2 linked regions of the Homo sapiens genome follow. The protein of the gene in region 2 purifies or fractionates together with the protein of the main gene of each other region. This does not show direct contact. Each region holds a gene or a part of one and is shown on either strand. Other genes may lie near its edges.

What was found. The genes of interacting proteins can lie anywhere in the genome.
Region 1: the proteins of ERGIC2 (region 2) and ELSPBP1 purify together in Homo sapiens (co-immunoprecipitation; one large-scale study listed by IntAct). This does not show direct contact.

What each region holds. Positions count from the first base shown.
Region 1 is NC_000019.10:48,022,064-48,025,717, forward strand, and holds the end of ELSPBP1 (epididymal sperm-binding protein 1 precursor), read left to right. Parts: intron 1-106; coding exon 107-264; 3' UTR 265-271; exon of another isoform or gene 272-313; intron 314-2,888; 3' UTR 2,889-3,091; downstream 3,092-3,654.
Region 2 is NC_000012.12:29,346,655-29,350,308, forward strand, and holds part of ERGIC2 (endoplasmic reticulum-Golgi intermediate compartment protein 2), read right to left. Parts: intron 3,415-3,654; coding exon 3,359-3,414; intron 2,524-3,358; coding exon 2,425-2,523; intron 1-2,424. UniProt on the Homo sapiens protein: Possible role in transport between endoplasmic reticulum and Golgi.

The DNA of each region.
Region 1 (3,654 bases), on a different chromosome or scaffold from region 2:
CACACTCAGCCCCAATTTGAAATCTAGGGTGGGCCTGAAGCCCACGCCTCTACGACAGTGTGAAGCCTGAGGAGTAACCTTTGTTTTATCCCCTTCTGCTTCCTAGGAATTTCCGCGTTGGTCCCTGGCTTTCCTTGTCACTTTCCGTTCAACTATAAAAACAAGAATTATTTTAACTGCACTAACGAAGGATCAAAGGAGAACCTTGTGTGGTGTGCAACTTCTTACAACTACGACCAAGACCACACCTGGGTGTATTGCTGATGCTGAGGTGAGAGCAGGGACCAACAGTGGTCATTTCACGGATGCAGAGGTGAGACAGGTGCACAACTGGTGTGTCACTGATGCGAAGGCGAGATCTGCTTTTTCAAGCGTGTCTGATTAGCGTCGCTGATGTGAAGGCGAGATCTGTTGCTTTTCCAGCATGTCTGATTAGCTGAGGTTCCCAGCAATGCGGGCTCCTGTTGTCAAAGATAAGGTGGAGTTGGGGAAGACTGGAACAACTCCCCAGATTAGAAGGATGAAAGAAATTGGGATTTCCCCCAGAAGCAGGAGAGCAGAGGGGGATTGGCAAACTTTTTCAGACCCAGGAAGGTATCATTCCAAGTTTCAAGTCTGGGAGGCTTTGGCTGTTGATGATTAGAAAAGTGGAATTTCTCAAAGTGGAGCATGGTATGAAAAAACAACCCAGAAAAGGGGATAACTGACCAGCTGTGGTGACTCACACCTGTAATCCTAGTGCTTTGGGAGGCCAAGGCAGGAGGATCAGTTGAGGCCAGGAGTTTGAGACCACCCTGGGCAATGTAGCAAGACCCTGTCTCTACAAAAAAAAAAAAAATTAGTTGGGTGTGATAGCACACATCTGTAGTCCCAGCTACTCAGGAGGCTGAGGTCAGAGGATCCCTTGAACTCAGGAGTTGCAGTGAGCTATGATTACACCACTGTACCCCAGCCTGGGGAACAGAGTGAGACCTTGTCTAAGAAAGAAAAAGAGAAAGATGGACGAAAGGAAGGAAAGAAGGAAGAAAGATGAAGGAAGGAAGGAAAGAGAGAGGGAGGAAAAGAGAGAGGAAGGGAAGAAAGGAGGGAGGGAGGGAAGGAAGGAGGAAGGGAGGGAAGAAAGAACGGAGGGGAAAGGAAGGAAGGAGGGAAGGAAGGAGGGAGGGAAGGAAGAAAGAGGAAAGAAAGGAGGTAGAGAGAGGGAGGAAAGAAGAAAGGAGGGAGGAAAGGAAGGAAGGAGAGAAGAAAGGAAGGAGAGAGGGAAAGAAGGAAGGGAGGGAGGAAGGAAAGAAGGAAGGGAGGAAGGAAGAGAGGAAAGGAGGGAGGAGGGAGGGAGGAAGTGAGGGAGGAGGGAGGGAGGGAAGGAGGAAGGGAGAAAGTAGGAAAGGGAGGAGGGAAGGAATGGAGGAAGGGAGGAGGGAAGGGAGGGAGGGAAGGAAAAGAGGAAGGAAATAAGGAAGGAAGGGAGGAAGGAAAGAAGGAAGAAAAGGGAAGGGAAAGGAAGGGAAGGAAGGGAGGGAGGAAGGAAGGAAGGGAGGGAGGGAGGGAAGAAAGGGAAGGAGGGAAGGAAGCAAGGAAAGGAAGGATAACCCAGAAGCCAAGACACCATGGTGTGCATCCATTGCCCCCATCACTGAGTAGCTGACCAAGGGAAAAATGGGGTTTATTTCTCTTCCTTCACCATTTGGGCCTCCTGCCCCACCTCAGCCCGCTGGTCATCAAGTACCTCCACAGAACCAACTTTATCCCTCTTTTCTTTTTTTCTTTTTTCTTTCTTCTTTCTTTATTTTTTTCTTTTTCTTTATTTTATTTATTTATTTTTTTTGAGACGGGGTCTCACTCTGTCGCCCAGGCTGGAGTGCAGTGGTGCAATCTCAGCTCACTGCAGCCTCTGCCTCCTGGGTTCAAGAAATTCTCCCACCTCAGCCTCCTGAGTAGCTGGGATTACAGGGGTGTGCCACCATGCCCAGCAATTTTTTTTTTTTTTTTTTTGTATTTTTAGTAGAGACGGGGTTTCACCATGTTGGCCAGGCTGGTCTCAAACTCCTGACCTCAGGTGATCCATCCAACTCGGCCTCCCAAAGTGCTGGGATTACAGGCGTGAGTCACTGTACCTGGCCTATCCCTCCTTTTCTTCTAGTCTTTTCCTCTCTCTACATTCTTCACAAAGGACCAGCTGATTGAAGCAGGTGGTGCAGAGGGTATTTCTAAAGGTGGTTATTTAAGCTTGAAAGATGTTCTCCAGCCTGTAGAAATGGTCTCTAAATCTCCCGCATGGATCAACTGACCTCACTGCTCTGTGACTTCTGGAATCTAAATAAAAAAAGAGAAGCCCTTTCATCAGATGTGTAGACAAAACCCCATCCCTCCTCCCTTTGGGGTGGAAAACCCTGGTGGTTCTAGCAATGTCTGTCCTTACAATGCATGTGGCTTATGGATGACACTAAATTAGCGGGCCCTTCCTGAATTTTGCCTTGGTAATGAAAATCATCTTCCTGGAATAGAGGAGAGGGAAAGGAGGGGGTTTGGAACTCTGGGCACCATCTTAACAGGGTAGATATTAAAAAACACCCACAGTGGCGTTCAGTCTGTGGCTAGGACTAGGAACAGCGTCCAGCCTCTGACTTCTGTCCATCACAGCAGAACTGGCACTTTGCAGGTCCCCTTCCCCTTAGCATAGAGGTGAGATTGAGGAGCTCATTGTTCATTGATCTCCTTGCTCCTATGAGCTAGGCAGGGATGTGGGGGTGGGGGCGTCTGATTCCTCTCAGCTCAGCTGCTTCCGACTAAGTCTGGAAAACCAATACAAAGTCATTTTTAATTCACCTTCCTCTTTGAGTCAATGCCTACTTATTCATTAAACTCAGATCTTTGCTTCTATTTTCAAGGAAAGGAGAAATATCTTCAGAGGAAGACTGCCGCCATACTGAGGCTGAGCACAGATTTGTCTTTTTCATTGCATCTGTCAAGCTTAAATAACCACCTTTAGAAATACCCTCTGCACCACCTGCTTCAATCAGCTGGTCCTTTGTGAAGAACGTAGAGAGAATGCGGCATAACCACCAATAAAGGAGTCTTGATTTAACCCTGGGATCTGCCTTTTCTGCTTCCTAAGATGAGACCGATGGTGAATGTGTGGGGAAGGAAAGATTGGTAGCCAGGCTGTCGAGTCTCATAGTGTGGAGAGGTCAGACTCTCAGGCCAGGGACCTCTAGGAGTCATTACAGCCTGCTCTGTCTTCTGAGGGAAATCACAGATTTGGGTGGGGTGTTTGTAGATACATATTAAATTATTAATGAATAAATTAGGAAGTAAACAGAGGGTAGAAAATTCACCACAAGACTGCCTCAACCATTCCCTCCCTGTGCCCATGGCAGATATCAAGAACTGATTACAGAATCTGATTCCCTCTCAGCCCAGATGGAAATTCACATTGTTGTTCTTGTTCTTTCTTCTTCTTCCTTTCACTCTTCTTCTCCCTCTCCTCCTCCTCCATCTTCTCCTCCTTCTCCTCCATGTCTCCTCTTACTCCTCTCCTACTCCCTCTTGTCCTCCTTCTTCTACTCCTCCCTCTTCTCCTCCTCCCTCTCCACCTCCTTCTCCTCCTCCCTCTCCTTCTCCTCCTCCTTCTCCTCCTCCCTCTCCTTCTCCTTT
Region 2 (3,654 bases):
GAAAACTAAAGAAACTACTCAATGATGGCCTGGGGTTACTGTATAATCAAAAGGATCATTTTTATACAGTCATTAGGCATCTCTAAGTTTGACACAAGTTTTAAATACCAGAATATTACCAATTACTAATTAACTGTAAACAATTACCCATTCACATAATATAAAACATGTTAATTCTCCGGGTCTAGAGAATTCTCTAGAAAAAGTATAATTAGATACACCTATCCATAGATTCAACTAGAGAAGCAAGTAAATGTTTTTATTATCCTTTTGTTAGAGATGAAGCAACTCAAGTACAGGGATGTTAAGAAACAGGCCAAAGTCCAAGTTATTAAGTGGCAGAGTGAGAACTTGAACCCAGGCGGTTCCACTCAAGGGGAATATGGTCTTAAATTTAAGCAGAAAAAATTCTCCCAGATTTAAATAGAAGCTTGCACCCCTTTGTACATAAAAGAGTAAAAGCTTTGACCTTCCTCTCCACTTCTCTCTCACTCATGGAAGGAATGATTCATCTGCAAAAAGTAATCATGTGTGGCTAAGCCACTCAATTAGATAGTATAGGCATTCTCTCTCTTAAACAGCTCTGTCTTCAAGACATACATAACCACCTTCTACCATTAGGAAAGTGAGCCATCCCTGCCATTTGAGAAGTCAGCAGGGTAGGAGGAGTATGGAGTTAGGTTGTCCAGTTTGTGGCAGCACATATAGGTTGTTTTATTTCTACCGGCTTCATTAATAATAAAGCTGCCTGCAATGCTCTCAAAAAGATAATCGCTTAGCTCACTTATTTACTTCACTCAAGTTTTTTTCAAATACCACAGCCTCTTCCATGCCCTTTCTCATATCATAGGCAATCTCCTTTATTTTGTTCAGAGCCGTTTGCCCTAACACTTATTACCTAAAGATCTAATTCCCTATAGGAACGTGCGCTCTATGAAGGGCAGGGACTATGTCTACCTTGTTTATCCAAATCTGTACTGCATTAAAGATGTTAATTGTTAAGTAACTCCTGCAATACTTCTGGAGAACATCAGGAAAGGGATAGCTACCTGACATAGCAGATATGTAATGTTGATTTTTTTCTTTTTGGAAAAAGAGGCTGAAAAAAACATATATTACGAAGGAGAAAAGTATACAAACTGCTTTAAAGCTTTGAAAAACCTGATGATACTCACCTAACGGCATTTCAGAATATGACTCTAAATACCTCTTAGTTTCTCTGAATTTATAAAGAAGTACACTTAAAAACAGCTTTTTGAAAATTGACCTGTTTATATTTAGAAGAGCTTCTGTGCAAAAATTTGTAGTTCATTTTAGCATCTTGAAACAAAGCATCGACCAGTATGTTTCCAAATGAGCATCTCTCAGGTAACATGCAATGCATTTCAGAGGAGAATTAACATATGCTTAGATTACAGATTAGATTATACTGACTAAAGCTTATAAATCTCAAAATGTTTCCATCCACACATTTCTAAATTTAGTACACTCAGGTTTCCTGAAGTGAAACATTCCCACATGAACATAAAATATTCATGAATGTAAATCAGTATTCTAAATTCTAAACATCTTTAATATATGATTATAACACTGCTAAAAAGTAAAGAATATGAATAAATCTGAATAGGATATTAATAAATCTACTTAAATTAATAAAAAACTAAATCCTTAATTACAATTTTACAAAGGATAGAATTCCTACTAGCTGAACAAGCTTCAGAAGTCCTTAAAATGTCCAATAGCTGGAACATGGTATATAATATGACTATTTTAGAAAGAGGCAATCAAAAACCTGCAGAAAACATGAGAACAGACTACTTTCTAAAAAACTAAGAAAATGATCTTTCCATATTTGGATAGACTTGATACTTTAAATGGAGCAGAAGGTTAAATAGAACATTTTAAAAAGGTTATCTGTGCTATAATGTACTCCTTCTATGTTAATAACCAAACCATTCCAGAATAACTAGGTTTCTGGTGTTTGTAAAATTCTCCAGAGAGGTTTCTGAAATGATATATATGCATTTTAAAACTTTGAACCTATATTATACAAAGAAGAAAATTCTTCTCATAATGTTGAACCTTTTTTTCATTCTTATTCTTTGGTGAATACAAAAAAGTGCAGTTATGCCCTGTTAATGTATTAACCTTTCATCTATTTCTACTGTTTAAATTGAACTCCTTCTGCCTTTTAATTCCTTCATCTTTTAACTTGAATTTCTTTATTCTGTTCTATGGCTCATTTTTGAATATTCAAATTTCATCCACTACTAGGACAAATTCTCTTCACATACATCTCAATCACCAACCACTTAAAGATTATCTTTACACAGTAGTTAGGAAGACATTAAAAATGTATTAATATTCAGGTTATAAGCAAAATTTTCTACATGTAAAATCCAACAATAATTATTAAATACTTACGATCTATAGCAATTTTTTCAGTTCCATCTAAAGGATTAATAATTGCTGGAACAAGCTCTCCAAAAGACAAATGATCTATTCTATGAGAAAAATTGTAAGCTAAAAGGCAAAAAATAAAAACAACTTAGCAGAGAAATTATATTATTCAAAATTACTTGGTACAGACTGGTTTACATCCTTATCTATTCTCAAATGAAAATGTTTAAAATCTTCAAGGATAATAATACAGTATTTTAAGCCACAATACTTTGAGAAAAATAAATGTAAATATATGCGAATTAAATGTATAAAATAAATTCTGACAAAATGCTATATCTCAAATTTAATAATTATATACAATTTAACGTCTAGAAAATATTAATATATAATGAAAGCCAAAAATATACATCTTTCCTTTTCCAAATCATCATATAGTTAACAGGACGGTATTGTTAGAATTGGAATGATGGCCATGTGGCCATATAATAAAACTGATCAGATATATTTTTAATACACTATTGCTAAATGTGACCAAACTAATTTTCTGTGGAATCCATTACTTGTTTTGTCCTCTAAAGCAGACTTTAAGAACTTAAGTCTTAAGACAATCATGATACCAAACTAACCTGAATACTTTATACATGTCTATACATCCATATTTCAATTTGCAAATTGAAATAAACTGCAAATATATTATTTTCTTTATCCCTAAAAATTAGCAGAAATGTGTACAAAGTTATAGAAAGTACACTAGGCTTTCCTCCCTAACCTCAGCAACTCAGAGCCATGACCAAATACAAATGCAGATTAAAGTAAATCAATTTAAAAATTTATTTTTTCCTTTGGATGAATATGTTTTCAAAACAGCTCACTTTCAACTACACTATATCTGCACTTTTAAAAATAATATTTTTTCAAGTACATCTTTACTGAAAAAAAGTCAGAATCTGCTTACATTCATGGTTGACAAGTGCTGCCAAATGTGCATGACCACGAGGATGTGGAATTGCCCTGAAAGGAGAAAAAACAATTATTAAAGTAGTACCATTTATATGTATAATTAATTAAAATCAGAAACTGGATCTTCCCTAAGTTATATAATTTTTCTTAGTACAAAATAACATAAGAATGCATTTGGCCTATTGACTGAGCAGACAAGTCTACTCATCTCAGCAATGCAATAAACTGCTGGAGGTTGGCAAACATTTTTGGCAAAGAGCCAGATAGTAAATACTTTAGGCTTTGTGGACC